Regions from separate parts of the Homo sapiens genome. Here region 2 is linked to region 1. Evidence: fine-mapped expression QTL. Tissue or cell type: whole blood. Region 1 holds a variant in brackets; the other region holds the start of a gene. All regions are shown on one strand. Distances are between the middles of the regions.

What was found. PIP is the estimated chance that this variant, and not a neighbour inherited with it, causes the effect.
Region 2: it holds the start of GPBAR1, and the variant in region 1 is fine-mapped to the expression of GPBAR1 in whole blood (TOPMed, PIP above 0.99).

What each region holds. Positions count from the first base shown.
Region 1 is chr2:218,171,039-218,179,140 of GRCh38, reverse strand. No RefSeq gene overlaps it. Among named protein-coding and RNA genes, the nearest start is that of CXCR1, 8.1 kb to the right of the region's middle. RefSeq lists an enhancer at 3,778-4,277. The variant C/T (reference allele first, on the strand shown) is at 3,026.
Region 2 is chr2:218,256,439-218,264,540 of GRCh38, reverse strand. GPBAR1 (G protein-coupled bile acid receptor 1) reads right to left here and starts at 3,526. Exons shown (of 2, transcript NM_170699.3): 1 at 3,325-3,526; 2 at 680-1,861. The coding sequence starts at 1,816. The coding sequence ends at 824. It overlaps AAMP (angio associated migratory cell protein), which reads left to right. Exons shown (of 11, transcript NM_001087.5): 11 at 1-412. The coding sequence ends at 8. RefSeq lists enhancers at 171-350, 2,274-3,079.

The DNA.
Region 1 (8,102 bases):
CAGTGCCGGTCACAGACTGGGAAGGCAGCCTTCCTTTGGTGTTTAATCATTGCAGAGACACCTCTCTGATTATTCACCCACGTTTCAAAGGTGTCAGACCACGCAGGGACACCTGCCTTGGTCCTTCACCCTTAGCAGCAAGTCCCACTTTTCTGGGGGAGGGGCAAGTACCCCAACCCCTTCTCTCCGTGTCTCTACCCCTTCTCTGCTTTTCTGGGGGAGGGGCAAGTACCCCTCAACCCCTTCTCCTTCACCCTTAGCGGCAAGTCCTGCTTTTCTGGAGAAGGGGCAAGTACCCCAACCCCTTCTCTCCATGTCTCTACCCCTTCTCTGATTTTCTGGGGCAGGGGCAAGTACCCCTGAACCCCTTCTCCTTCACCCTTAGCGGCAAGTCCTGCTTTTCTGGAGGAGGGGCAAGTACCCCAACCCCTTCTCTCTGTGTCTCTACCCTTTCTTTGCTCTTCTGGGGCAGGGGCAAGAACCCCTCAACCCCTTCTCCTTCACCGTTAGTGGCAAGTCCCACTTTTCTAGGGGGCAGGAACCCCCAATCCCTTAATTCCGTGCCCCAACCCTTTCTCTGCTTTTCTGGAGGGCAAGAAACCCCCACCCCTTCTCCGTGTCTCTACTCTTTTCTCTGGGCTTGCCTCCTTCACTATGGGCAACCTTCCATTCCTCCTTCTTCTCCCTTAGCTTGTGTTCTTAAGAACTTAAAACCTCTTCAACTCTCACCTGACCTAAAATCTAAGCATCTTATTTTCTTCCGCAATGCCGCTTGACCCCAATACAAACTCGACAGTAGTTCCAAATAGCCAGAAAATGGCACTTTCAATTTTTCCATCCTACAAGATCTAAATAATTCTTGTTGTAAAATAGGCAAACGGTCTGAGGTGCCTGACGTCCAGGCATTCTTTTACACATCAGTCCCTTCCTAGTCTCTGTCCCCAGTGCAACTCGTCCCAAATCTTCCTTCTTTCCCTCCCGCCTGTCCCCTCAGTCCCAACCCCAAGCGTCGCTGAGTCTTTCTAATCTTCCTTTTCTACAGACCCATCTGACCTCTCCCCTCCTCGCCAGGCCAAGCTAGGTCCCAATTCTTCCTCAGCCTCCGCTCCTCCACCCTATAATCTTTTTATCGCCTCCCCTCCTCACACCTGGTCCAGCTTACAGTTTCCTTCCATGACTAGCCCTCCCCCACCTGCCCAGCAATTTACTCTTAAAAAGGTGGCTGGAGCCAAAGGCATAGTCAAGGTTAATGCTCCTTTTTCTTTATCCCAAATCAGAAGCATTTAGGCTCTTTTTCATCAAGTATAAAAACCCAGCCCAGTTCATGGCTTGCTCGGCAGCAACCCTGAGATGCTTTACAGCCCTAGACCATAAAAGGTCAAAAGGCCATCTTATTCTCAATATACATTTTATTACCCAATCTGCTCCTGACATTAAATAAAACTCCAAAAATTGGAATCTGGCCCTCAAACCCCACAACAGGACTTAATTAACCTCACCTTCAAGGTGTACAATAATAAAAAAAAGTTGCAATTCCTTGCCTCCACTGTGAGACAAACCCCAGCCACATCTCCAGCACACAAGAACTTCCAAAAGCCTGAACCGCAGCGGCCAGGCGTTCCTCCAGAACCTCCTCCCCCAGGAGCTTGCTACAAGTGCCAGAAATCTGACCACCAGGCCAAGGAATGCCTGCAGCCCAGGATTCCTCCTAAGCCGTGTCCCATCTGTGCAGGATGCCACTGGAAATCTGACTGTTCAACTCACCTGGCAGCCACTCCCAGAGCCCCTGGAACTCTGGCCCAAGGCTCTCTGACTGACTCCTTCTTGGCTTAGCGGTTGAAGACTGATGCTGCCCTATTGCCTCGGAAGCCCCGTAGACCATCACGGATGCCGAGCTTTAGGTAACTCTCACAGTGGAGGGTAAGTCTGTCCCCTTCTTAATCAATACTCAGGCTACCCACTCCACATTACCTTCTTTTCAAAGGCCTGTTTCCCTTGCCTCCATAACTGTTGTAGGTATTGACAGCCAGGCTTCTAAACCTCTTAAAACTCCCCAACTCTGGTGCCAACTTAGACAATACTCTTTTACACACTCTTTTTTAGTTATCCCCACCTGCCCAGTTCCCTTATTAGGCCAAGATATTTTAACCAAATTATCTGCTTCCCTGACTATTCCTGGACTACAGCCGCATCTCATTGCTGCCCTTCTTCCCAATCCAAAGCTTCCTTTGCATCCTCCTCTTGTTTTCCCCCACCTTAACCCACAAGTATAAGATACCTCTACTCCCCCCTTGGCGACTGATCAGGCACCCCTTACCATCTCATTAAAAACTAATCACCCTTACCCCACTCAATGCCAAGATCCCATCCCACAGCATGGTTTAAACCATGCTTTAACAGGATTAAACAGGATTAAAGCCTGTTATCACTCGCCTGCTACAGCATGGCCTTTTAAAGCCTATGAACCCTCCTTACCATTCCCTCATTTTACCTGTCCTAAAACCAGACAAGCCTTACAAGTTAGTTCAGGATCTGCGCCTTATCAACCAAATTGTTTCGCCTATCTACCCTGTGGTGCCAAACCCATATACTCTCCTATCCTCAATACCTCCCTCTACTACCCATTATTCTGTTCTGGATCTCAAATATGCTTTCTTTACTATTCCTTTACACCCGTCATCCCAGCCTCTCTTTGCTTTCACTTAGACTGACCCTGACACCCATTAGGCTCAGCAAATTACCTGGGCTTCACTGCTGCAAGGCTTCACAGACAGCCCCCATTACTTCAGTCAAGCCCAAATTTCATCCTCATCTGTTACCTATCTCGGCATAATTCTCATAAAAACACACGTGCTCTCTCTGCTGATCGTGTCTGATTAATCTTCCAAACCTCAATCCCTTAGAAAACAACAACTCCTTTCCTTCCTAGGCATGGTTAGTGGGGTCAGAATTCTTACACAAGAGCCAGGACCGCACCCTGTAGCCTTTCTGTCCAAACAACTTGACCTTACTGTTTTAGCCTAGC[C/T]CTCATGTCTGCGTGCAGCGGCTGCCGCTGCTTCAATACTTTTAGAGGCCCTAAAAATCACAAACTGTGCTCAACTCATTCTCTACATTTCTTATAACTTCCAAAATCTATTTTCTTCCTCATACCTGACGCATATACTTTCTGCTCCCCAGCTCCTTCAGCTGTATTCACTCTTTGTTAAGTCCCACAATTACCATTGTTCCTGGCCCGGACTTCAATCTGGCCTCCCACATTATTCCTGATACCACACCTGACCCCCATGACTGTATCTCTCTGATCCACCTGACATTCACCCCATTTCCCCATATTTCCTTCTTTCCTGTTCCTCACCCTGATCACACTTGATTTATTGATGGCAATTCCACCAGGCCTAATTGCCACACACCAGCAAAGGCAGGCTATGCTATAGCACAAGCCACTAGCCCGCCTCTTAGAACCTCTCATTTCCTTTCCATCATGGAAATCTATCCTCAAGGAAATAACTTCTCAGTGTTCCATCTGCTATTCTACTACGCCTCAGGGATTATTCAGGCCCCCTCCCTTCCCTACACATCAAGCTTGAAGATTTGCCCCCACCCAGGACTGGCAAATTAGCTTTACTCAACATGCCCCGAGTCAGATAACTAAAATACCTCTTAGTCTAAGTAGACACTTTCACTAGATAAGTAGAGGCCTTTCCTACAGGGTCTGAGAAGGCCACACAGTCATTTCTTCCCTTCTGTCAGACATAATTCCTCAGTTTAGCCTTCCCACCTCTATACAGTCTGATAACAGACCAGCCTTTATTAGTCAAATCAGCCAAGCAGTTTTTCAGGCTCTTAGTATTCAGTGAAACCTTTATATCCCTTACGGTCCTCTGTCTTCAAGAAAAGTAGAACGGACTAAAGGTCTTTTAAAAACACACCTCACCAAGCTCAGCCACCAACTTAAAAAGGACTGGACAATACTTTTACCACTTTCCCTTCTCAGAAGTCAGGCCTGTCCTCAGAATGCTACAAGGTACAGCCCATTTAAGCTCCTGTATAGAAGCTCCTTTTTATTAGGCCCCAGTCTCATTCCAGACACCAGACCAACTTAGACTGTGCCCCAAAAAAACTTGTCAACCATACTATCTTCTGTCTACTCATACTCCTATCCACCATTCTCAACTACTCATACATGCCCTGCTCTTGTTTACACTGCCAGTTTACACTGTTTCTCCAAGCCATCACAGCTGATATCTCCTCATGCTATCCCCAAACTGCCACTCTTAACTCTTGAAGTAAATAAATAATCTTTGCTGGCAGGACTATGCTGAATCTCCTTAGGCAGTCTTTAATCAGATGTCCTAGGTCCTCCCAATTCTTAGACCTTTTATACCTGTTTTTCTCCTTCTCTTATTCCATCTAGTTTTTCAATTCATACAAAACCGTATCCAGGCCACCACCAATAATTCTAAATGACAAATGTTTCTTCTAACAACCCCACAATATCAACCGTTACCACAAAATCTTCCTTCAGCTTAATCTCTCCCACTCTAGGTTCCCACGCCGCCCCTAATCCCGCTTGAAGCAGCCCTGAGAAACATCGCCCACTCTCTCTCCATACAACCCCCCAAACATTTTCGCCACCCCAAGACTTTAACACTATTTTGTTTTATTTTCCTTATTAATATAAGAAGGCAGGAATGTCAGGCCTCTGAGCCCAAGCCAAGCCATCTTATCCCCTGTGACTTGCATGTATACATCCAGATGGCCCGAAGTAACTGAAGATCCACAAAAGAAGTAAAAATAGCCTTAACTGATGACATTCCACCATTGTGATTTGTTTCTGCCCCACCCTAACTGATCAATGTAATTTGTAATCTCCCCCACCCTTAAGATGGTTCTTTGTAATTCTCCCCACCCTTGAGAATGTACTTTGTGAGATCCACCCCTGCCCGCAAAACATTGCTCTTAACTTCACAGCCTATCCCAAAACCTATAAGAACTAATGATAATCCACCACCCTTTGCTGACTCTCTTTTCGGACTCAGCCCACCTGCACCCAGGTGAAATAAACAGCTTTATTGCTCACACAAAACCTGTTTGTTGGTCTCTTCACACGGACGGGCATGAAAGCGAGGACTACGGTGGTCTTGAGGCTGGGGAGCGGGTAGCTGAGACCTCATCCCTCAAGGCAACAGAGGTGGGACAGCATGTGAACTGAGGCTCCCAGTATCTGTGCATGACCCAGTGGACTTCCCATGTTTTTTTCCTAACTTGTAATTAAAAAAAAAAACTTTTTTTTTTGAGACGAAGTCTTGCTCTGTCGCCCAAGCTGGAGGGCAGTGGCACGATCTCAGCTCACTGCAACCTCTGCCTCCCAGGTTCAAGCAATTCTCCTGCCTCAGCCTCCCGCATAGCTGGGATGACAGGTGCGCGCCACCATGCCCAGCTAGTTTTTGTATTTTTAGTAGAGACAGGGTTTCACTATGTTGGCCAGGCTGGTCTTGAACTTCTGACCTCGTGATCCACCTGCCTCGGCCTTCCAAAGTGCTGGGATTACAGGCCTGAGCCATCGTGCCCGGCACCCCCAAAAATTTTTTTTTTGTCAAGATGGGGATCTTGCTATGTTGCCCAGGCTGATTTCAAACTCCTGAGCTCAAGTGATCCTCTAGTCTTGACCTCCCAAAGTGCTGGGATTACAGCCATGAGTCACTGTGCCTGGCTGACTTCACTTATAAAACACACATTCCAAGATAAAATTATTAAGAATTATAAGACAGCGACTGTAGAATATCAGACGCTAAGGTGGGGCTTTTCTGAGCCCAGGTCCCAGGCACCTGCAGAGGTCACACACCCCTCCTTGTGTCACACACTTTGCTGGGCACCAGGGATGCAAACTAGAATCCTTTACAGTTCTGGCCTTCAGGAGGGGCCAGGAGAGAAGGCAGGGGAGCTTTATGAATCATGACCAGGTGCCAGGCTTTGTGCCTGAGTCCTGCCTACTCATAGTCCAGTGTGAGACAAAGACTCCTAGAAATAAGCATAAAACAGTCTGAGAAAACAGCAGCAGTGGAGAACTAAGTGGTGTGGGAGCCCAGAGGCAAAAAAGCCTGCAGGTTTCAGGGCTGAGGAGGGAGGAGCCCAGTGGGACGGAAGCTCAGAGTCCTGGGCGTCTGCTCACAAACAGAGCTGTGCAGGCAAATTGGAGTGAGGGGTTGGGAATGACTGCTACAGTGGTATTTATTTACTGATTTTTTTTATGAAAATGGCTAAATATGTATTTTTTTTCTTTTATCTTTTGAGACCGAGTCTCACTCTGCTGCCCAGGCTGGAGTGCAATGGTGCAATCTCAGCTCACCTCTGCCTCCCAGGCTCAAGCGATTCTCCTGCCTCAGCCTCCCAAGTAGCTGGGAGTACAGGCACACGCCACCATGCCCAGCTAATTTTTGTAATTTTAGTGGAGACAGGGTTTCACCATGTTGACCATGCTGGTCTCGAACTCCTGATCTCAAGCAATCCACCCACCTCAGCCTCCTGAAGTGTTGAGATTACAGGCGTGAACCACTGCGCCTGGTGTGTATTTTTTTTTTTTCTGATTGCAAAAGTAATGCTTATTTTAAAGATTGAGCAACATCAAAAGACATAAGCAAGGAAGCAAATATCTACAATCCCAAATATCTACAATCCCCAAAGATAACCCCTGCTAACATTTGACTACGTTTCCCGTGTTTTCCCTGTGCATACACATATATGTATTTGATACAAAATGTAATACTGTACATTCTACTTTTTAATCTTTATTGCCACTTAGCATCCTATTACAAACACTTTTCTATAGCATTAATTATAGCTGTACATTATTTTAAATAGAAGCATGGTATTCCATTTTATAAATCCAGTATAATTTGTATAAACATTTTTTGAAGAACATTGAGATTATTGCTGTTTTATTATTATAAACAACCCTGTGATAAACTTACTTTCCTTCCTTCCTCCTTTCTTTCCTTCCTTCCTTCCTTCTTTCCTTTCTTCCTTCCCTCCCTCTCTCCTCTTCCTCCCTTCCTCCCTTCCCTCTTTTAGTGGAATTTCAGCATCAAAGGTTCTGCATTTTTTGGTGTGTTCGATACACAGCTCCCCCACGGGACCATGGGGGTTGTGTACAAAATAAATAAATAAATAAATAAATAAATAAATAAATAAATAAATAAAGTGATCATAAGAGCCTGGGCAACATAGCAAGACCCTCATCTCTACAAAAGTGTTTTAATTATCTGGTTGTGGTGGCACACACCTATAGTCCCAGCTACATGGGAGGCTGAGGCAAGAGGATCGCTTGAGCCCAGGAGTTCAAGGCTGCAGTGAGCTATGATCACTCCACTGCACTCCAGCCTGGGAGACAGAGTGATGTCCTGTCCTGAAAGAAAGAAAAATAAAGGAAAGTGGGCATCTGAGCACTCATTTGAAGGAAATCCTCCGGAATCGATTCAGAAATCCTCATGAAGTACCCAGAATTCCCTGCTTTGGAGCCAGCCAGACCAGGATGAACTAAAAGTGACTGAACACTTATTATCTGCCAACCACTTTACATATATTAACTAATTGATCCTGATGCCAATCCTATAAACTAGGTCCTACTTTTATTATCCTTTTGCAGGTGAGAAAACTGAGGCACAGAGTGAGCATCTAAGCTGCCCAAGGGCACACATCTAGCCAGGGACAGAGTTGGGATTTGTACCAGCTGGTTTGGAGCTCAAGCCTTCCATCATCACAACAGCTTGGAGAGGTAAGTATTATTATCCCCGTTTTTATAGATAAGGATATTTTGATAAATGTTAAGAGATGCCACAATTTGCCAGTTGACTGGCATTCAGGCTGCACCTGTCACGGCTTTCTTCGTGGCACTGGGTGTTCTGCATAGAATAGAAAAATGCTTTCCTATCACCACCCAAGATCACAAACTAGTAAAGAAGAGCCAGTATTTCCATCCTGGTCTGTCTGACTTCAAAGCAAGGAATTCTGGGTCCTTCATGCGGATTTTCTGAATCCATTCCGGAGCGTTTCCTTCAGATGAGTGCTCAGACGCTCACTTTCCTTTTTTAATTTTTCTTTCT
Region 2 (8,102 bases), 85 kb before region 1:
ACCGTTAATGGCTGCAGCCCCTGCCTGTGTGTCTGGTGTTGAGGGGACGAAGGGACCCCTGCCCCTGTCTGCCAGCAGAGGCAGTAGGGCACAGAGGGAAGAGGAGGGTGGGGCCCTGGATGACTTTCCAGCCTCTTCAACTGACTTGCTCCCCTCTCCTTTTCTTCTCTTTAGAGACCCAGCCCAGGGCCCTCCCACCCTTGTCCAGACCTGGTGGGCCCTTCAGAGGGAGGGGTGGACCTGTTTCTCTTTCACTTTCATTTGCTGGTGTGAGCCATGGGGTGTGTATTTGTATGTGGGGAGTAGGTGTTTGAGGTTCCCGTTCTTTCCCTTCCCAAGTCTCTGGGGGTGGAAAGGAGGAAGAGATACTAGTTAAAGATTTTAAAAATGTAAATAAAATATACTTCCCAGAGACAGAGTCTGTGTGGATTTTGTGATGGCTGGACCCTAGGAGGAGCTAGCGAGGGCCCCGTCAGGGCAAGGCTGTCCCGCAGAATCGGCTGGATGTTGAGATGTGCCAGCTCCCCATCTCCAGGGGTGGTCTGTGCGCACGACACTTCTTGCCTGCCTGGAGTCGGACTCTGCCTTAATCCACGCGTATGTCTGTAGGTTCTTTCTATTGTTGGTGTGTTGAGCCATTTCCTCCTGCCTCGCCCTGAGATATGGAATGAGATAATCATAAACGGCCAGAGGAGCTTTATTCAGTCAGTGCGGGGTCAAACAGAGGCAGGGTCTCTGATCCAGAGAAGTGGGGCCCGGTAGAGACAGGCTGGATGGCTGAGCTGGACGGATGCTCTGGTAGGAGTCAGCAGAGGCCCTTCCTTTAGTTCAAGTCCAGGTCGACACTGCTTTGGCTGCTTGGGTGGTAGGCAATGCTGGGGCCGGGACTGTCCCGGGAGGCTCTTCCCCACAGCCCCTGCAGGCACCTTTGGGCGGCTGCCCTCCAGGGGGCTGTGTAGCGCTGATCGCCCAGCCCCATGGCTACGGGCACTGCCGCTGCACTGGCACTTCCTAGGGAGAGGAGGGACAACAGTGTCCCAGGCCCCAGTGGCGGGCGCTGCTCATAGGCCAGGACTGAGAGGAGCAGTGTGGCCACGTAGGGCCCCCAGCACAGCCCGAAGAGCAGCATGGCTCCAGCCTGTGCCCTTGCCTGCCTCCAGGTAAGGGCCCGGGCCAGGGCGGAGGGCTCATCGCGGCACACTGCCCGCTCCAGCCGGCAGATGTCCTGCAGCTGGCGGTGGGCAGTGGCCAGCACGCGGACAGAGAGGAAGGCAGCAGCACCCACGGCGGGCAGCAGGAGCCCATAGACTTCGAGGTACAGGTAGGGGGCTGGGAAGATAGCCTGGGAGCTGCAGTTGGCACCAGGGGTCCAGTGGTTCCACCCCAGAGCGGGCAGACTGGCAAAGAGCAGGGGACCAGCCCAGGTGAGGAGCAGGGCCAGCCGAATGCTCCCAGGGGGCTGGAGTGGCCTCAGGACTGCCATGTAGCGCTCCCCGTGCACCAGCAAGAGGTTGGCAAGCAGGGAGAGGAAGGAGAAGTTGGGAGCCAAGTAGACGAGGAGGCAGGACCAGTAACCCCGGCGACTCTGGTTCCACAGCCCTGGCAATGTGGGCAATGCCAGACCCGTGAGCAGCCCAGCCAGCAGTAGGCTCAGGAAGAAGCAGCCAGCAGGTGGGCTGCGCAGGCGGCGGTCCCAGGCGATGCCCAGGGCTAGGAGCAGGTTCGCGGTGATGATGAGGCTTGCCAGGGCCAGGGAGAGCCCCAAAGCCCCCTTGGGAATGGGGCTGGGCACCTCGCCAGTGCTGTTGGGCGTCATCTTGGTCCTGGGGACAGGGGAGTCCTGGAGCGGCAGCCGGCATGCCTGCAGGATGGGGTGGCCAGAGTTAGGATGGGGCTGCAGGTCGTGTCCTCCTGGCAGGGCAGCATGTTAATCCAGGGGCGCAGACCCGCAGGCTGTGGGCTGTATCATGTTCGCTGATACACAGAATTTTTCAATTAATTGCCAATTAAACATTTATATAAAAAACTATCTTTGGTTTCTATTGAAAATTCAGGTCTGGCAACACATATGTCCTGTGTGGTAGCAACCAGCCGGAGCTCACTGCTGGCTGCCCTTCGGACAGTCCCCACCCAGCCAGCTTTATCCATTTCTGGTATCTGCCTTTTCTGGGCAGCTGTGTTGAGGTCTCTTGTTTAGACTGAAAGGCGGGCCCATCCAGCCCCAAAGCATTTTGTGTATCCCTGCCTCCACCGGGGAGGCCTCTAAATGAGAGAATGGACCAGGGCTGGCTGGTGTGTAGTGGTCTTCCAGCCAGCCATTAGGTGACAGGCTCCAGCGGGCCAGGTCTCGGGCACCCTGCACCCTTCCCCCCATCTGTCCTTGTAGCCATCACAGCTCAGTGAGCAGCCTCCGGGTAGGACTTCCAGCCCATAAACTTGACTCGTCTTTGCTCCACACTAGCAACAGGGTCCTTCCTGGGAGCTGGAGGGAGGAGAGAAGCAGCTGGAGGGCACGTGTGGCAGTGAACGTGGAGATGCCAGCAGCAAGGAGAGGGACTCCCCCACACCCCCAGGCCTGAGGCTGAGCCCAGAGGAGAGGGAAGAGGAGTCTGGGCAGAGTCTGGCTTCTCTGTGGCTCTCATCTGTCCCTGTCCTTCCCGTCATTCCCTGGTCTCAGTCCTCCAGTGTCATGGCTCTGCTGCCACATCCTGGGGACAGGGGGAGGGGTCCTGGGTCCTGTGGGAACTCCTGCTTCTGTCAACAGGGGAGCAGCTGCTGTTGCTAGGATCCAAGTCAATAAGGAAAGGATTCATACCTCTCCCCTCCTCCAGGACAGGGGATCAGGGCCCCATGGCTGCCCTGAGCTGAGAGGAAGGAAGATGCTCCCCTTCCTTCCCAGGTTCCCCCAGCACCCTGAGCCTGGGCCTCCAAGGCCTTATGCCCCCTTTCCCCTCCCCTAAGCATGTTTTCTCTTTCTCAATCTCTTCCAGTGCCCTCCACCCAGGATGTCTTTTCCTCTCTAGAGGCCTTGCAGTTTCTGTTCCCTTTCCCAGGGCATCATCAACTCTCTTAAGTCCCGTGAGACTCAGGGTCCATTACCCCAAACCTGGCCTGAGCTGGAGCTCCCAGCCCTAATCGGAATGATTCCCCCCAACCCACCTCCACTAGAACAGCGACAAAGGCAGGGAGCAGCCCCCAGGGGTGATTTCCCAGCAGGGTGCAGGCTGTACCACCTGCACACCCCCGAGGGTCTGGTGGCTTGGGCTGGGTGTAGTAGCCTCTCCAGGATCTGGGGTTTGGGGGTTTGGGGGAGTAGCTACTCACATGGCTGTTGGGAGCAGGTATTGCCTGCCCAGCCTGGGCCTTCCTGAGTGTCAGGGAGTTGCTGCAGCCAGCCCTGCAGCGGTTTGGACCATGTCTGGTGTCCTGGCTGAAGAGCACAAGTGGACCAAGTGCATGGTGTCTCCACCCAGTGGGGACAGCGGGGCCAGGCTCTCCTACCCAGGCTCTGCCCGTCTGGGTTCTCAGAGGGATAGAGAAATGAGGCTGGCAGGACTCAGCCCTGGCCCCGCCTCTGGGAGGGTGGGACCTGACATATTCCAAACTGCAGCAACTGGGAGGCCTGCCTCCCCCTCCCACCCAGTTCCCCTCTCCCCCTGCCACCTAGGTGGCAGTTTCCCTACTCCAGCTCGGAGTAATCTGAGAAATGCATTCCAGTTAATGAATAATAATGATTGACTTACCCCTCCCGACTTCCCGCCTCAGCTGATGCATTTACATTTAAGCCCCTGGACTGGCCAGCCAGCTGACAGCACACCAGGCTCCCTCCACACTTCCGTGTGTGATGGTGGCAGTGGCAGGTGTTTGGGGCCTGAGGATCTTCACTCCCCCATCCCATCACCTGATGGGCCTTTCAGTTTCTAAGGCCAGACTTGCCTTCCTGAATCTGGGGTCATTCCACACTTTTCTCAACTGCTTTCTGAGTCAAGTTCTGAACTATGAGGGACAAATGGCTCTGGGGATGTGACCATGGGTAAGGTACTACTGGGCCTCGGTTTTTGCCTGTGTTAAAATGGGAACAAGAAAAACCACCTCTAATTAAGGTCGTGGTGGGGAATATCACAGGATAACACATATGGCGGCATATACCCCAGTGCATGGCCCTTGATGGGTGGGGGTTTGCCCCAACAAATGGCTCCCTCTCTTTCCTCCCCCATGATGAAGAGGCATGAGCTGGCGCTGGAATCAGAGCTGTCTGGATCCTTTTTTAAAAAAGCCAGTGAACTTGGGCAAATGACTAAAGTTCCCTTGCCTTAGTTTCCTCATCTGTCAAATGGGGCCCATAGTTGTACTCACCTATCGTGAGACTAAATGAAGTCCCGTGTGATGAGGACTCAGATCAACACTTGGCCCTTCAGCACTCCGCGACAGGCAGCGATCGCTGGGAACATTATTAGGATTTCTGCCTTTCTCTGCACCTGGCCCCTCTAAGACAGATCTGCTGAGAGGGGCGCATGGGGAGCTTGGGAAAAGCAAGAGGGGAGTGACACTCTTGCTGCACAGGGAAGCTGAGGAAACCAGATACATTGAGAGGGAAGGGCAAGTTCAAGGCTGGGAAGCCAGAAGTGGTGCTTTGATTTCCACCTTGTATCAAGTGCGGCTTTGGAGTGAGGGGGAGGAGAGAAGCCCAGCCACACTCCCTTAAGGCCTGAAATGGGAGGGAACAGGCGGAAATTGCAGCAGGAAAGCTGGGACTGGGGGTGAGACATTAGGAAACACTTGCTGGCTGAAGAGCGCAAGTAAATGGAGCAAAGGGACTCTGGTGCTCTCCGGGAGAGCTGGGCCTGAAGGGCTGGAAGCCCGTGGAGTGTGGCTGTGCCAGCTCTGCACAGCCAGTCAGGGATCCTGGAGATCAGGGACTTCTGTTGGGACAAAAAGTGGGAAGAGGAAAGCATCCAGCCTCAAGTCCATCCTCGAGGGAGCTGGTGGGTCGGAAGGACGCAGGGTTCCAGGGCCGGTCCTCAGAACCACGGGATCTGGTCGGGCAGAAGTCACAGGCTCTGGGAGAGTTCAGCCTGGGGCCTGGACAGAAGTGGGTGTGGGACCCTTCTGATATGTGACTTCCAGGAATAAACAGACCTCCTGTTCCCAGCCCCAGCCTGCTCCCTGTGGGATCCAGGATGTCTGTTTCTTCTCTGCTGCTCTGTCTAAACACTGTGTGTGGGATGTGTGTGAAGGGGGACAGATTAGGTAGTGGCAGCCAGGGAGCCTGGGCTGTCTCCTGCTCAGCCTCATTTCTCCCTTCCTAGATCATCTAGTTCCTGTCTGTTCCATCAAGCCCTGGGGCTGACTCACCCCCTAGCTTCTCCCTTCAGCCACGGAGGGCTCTGGTGCAAGCCGTCTTCAGACGCTCCATCCAGCTGACTGTGCCCGGACCCCATTCTCCTTTCCTCAGGCAGAGCCTGAATGGGGGTGACCAATTCAGACTCTGGCATGGAATCCTCCTGTGCCTCCTTTGTCCGCTTCCATTCTCTTAGCTATCTGAATTTCTCTCTGTTGACCCACAATGTCTGGGACTGGGTGAGTGTCATGCTGGCTGCGGGTACCAGCTCTGGACCAATGGAGGCAGCAGGGACGGGGTTTGCTGGACCCTGGTTGGCCTCCCTGAGCCGCTGTTCAACACTTCACACTCAATGCCTGTAATCCTAGCACTTTAAGAGGCTGAGGCCTGGGCAACGTGGTGAGACTCCGTCTCTACAAAAAATAAAGATTAGCTGGGCACAGTGGTACATGTTGTGTGGTTCCAGCTACTCAGGAGGCTGAGGTGTGAAGATTGCTCGAGTCCAGGAGGTTGAGGCTGCCGTGAGCCTTCATGGCGCCACTGCACTGCAGCCTGGGCGACAGAGTGAGACCCTGCCTCAAAATAAAGATGATTAAAAAAAATCAGAGCCAGGCGCGGTGGTTCATCCTTGTAATCCCAGCACTTTGGGAGGCCGAGGTGGACAGATCACCTGAAGTCAGGAGTTTGAGAGCAGTCTGGCCAACATGGTGAAACCCCATCTCTACTAAAAATACAAAAATTAGCCAGGTGTGGTGGTGAGCACCTGTAATCCTAGCTGCTCAGGAGGCTGAGGCAGGAGAATCGCTTGAATCCAGGAGGGGGAGGTTGCAGTGAGCCGAGATTGCGCCACTGCACAACAGAGCAAGTCTCCAATAATAAAAAAAAAAAATCGCCTAACCTTTTAATTCGCTCATCTGTTAAAAAAAAAAAAAAAAAAGGTTAGGGTGGGCTGGGCACAGTGGCTCACGCCTGTTTTCCCAGCACTTTGGGAGGCCAAGGTGGGTGGATCACCTGTCAGGAGTTCGAGACCAGCCTGGCCAATATGGAAAAACCCTGCCTCTACTAAAAATACAAAATTAGCTGGGTGTGGCGGTGCAGGCCTGTGGTCCCAGGTACTCCGGAGGCTGAGGCAGGAGAATTGCTTGAACCCGGGAAGCGGAGGTTGCAGTGAGCCAAGATCGCACCACTGCACTCCAGCCTGGGCGAAGAGTGAGACTCTGTCTCAAAACCAACCAACCAACCAACCAACCAACCAACCAACCAAAAACCAAAAAGAACCAACACCCCCCGCCCACTGAAATGGCAGTGCTTTTAGCAACCCCCAGTAGGGGGCAGCACTGCTTGAACTCAAAATCGCCACCAGAGTAGACCCAGGTTTCGGTCGAGCACTCATCAGTACTACTCCAAATGAGGGTAACCTAACGGCAACCAACTCCAAGTATCAGCTCCCCTCAAGGAGGCTGAGGCAGCAGCTAGGGCTATTTCCTTTTCTTGATTTCAATTCCCCCTCCAAGTCCACCCTTCCACTTCCTGTTAGAGTCTTAGCGTCTTTCCTGCCAAGCTCCTTATCCTTAGCTTGCAGTTTGCCCCAGGTTCCACTTTTTCCAGACATGGAGATTCTTACCTGCCTGGCCTCGGCAGTAAGGGCCATTTAAGCAGGGGAAAATACCAAAATACCAACTACCTTGGGGAAAGCCTGGGAAACCCCAAGCACCGAATAAGGGTTGGCTTCTGTGGGACTTTGCTGGGGCAACAGCCTGTCACTTCTGATCCCCTTGAGTGTATAAAGGGAACTAAGATTCATTGACATTATAATTACAGGCATCATAATGCTTATGATGTAACAGACATTTATTCTCTTTTCCTTTTACAAATCCTCAGGTAGGTGGCATTATGTCCAATTTAAATGAGGCTACCAGGGCTCAGATTAAGAAATTTGCTGTCACATAGCTATTAGATGGCGGCACCTGGATTCAAACTGTTCCTCTACAGCCCATATCCAAGGACGCCTACACTTACCAGGTGTGAACCCTTGGGGCACTGGCTTCCTGAGACTAGGAAGAAACAACTAGATCCCTTTTTTCCAGCCCACACCCTCAGTGTGCTTGACCCTCATCCTGAGACATTCCTCCTGCGGTCCTAAGGCCTCGACTGGTCACGATGGGCTGCTTCATCTGTGACGAGGGTCTTTGAGGCTAGATCCATACTAACGCCAAGTGTGTCCTTGTTAAGAGAAGAGTCAATCTGGATACGGGTTTACACCAGTATGGATTTTTCTTTTTTCTGGGACAGGGTCTCACTCTGTTGCCCAGGCTGGAGTGGAGTGGCACGACACAGCTCATTGCAGCCTTGACCTTCAGGGCTCAAGCAATCCTCCTGCCTCAGCCTCTTGAGTAGCTGGGACCACAGGCATGCACCACCACATCCAGCCGATTTTTATTTTTTGTAGAGGCAGGGTCTTGCCATGTTGTCCAGGCTGCACTACACATTTATTTATTTTTGAGACAGAGTTTCGCTCTTGTTGTCCAGGCTGGAGTGCAATGGCGTATCTTGGCTCACTGCAACCTCCGCCTCCTGGGTTCAAGTGATTCTCCTGCCTCCGCCTCCCGAGTAGCTGGGATTACAGGCACCCGCCACCATGCCCAGCTAATTTTTTTTTAGTAGAGATGGGGTTTCACCATGTTGGCCAGGCTGGTCTCAAACTCCTGACCTCAGGTGATCCACCCGCATTGGCCTCCCAAAGTGCTGGGATTACAGGCGT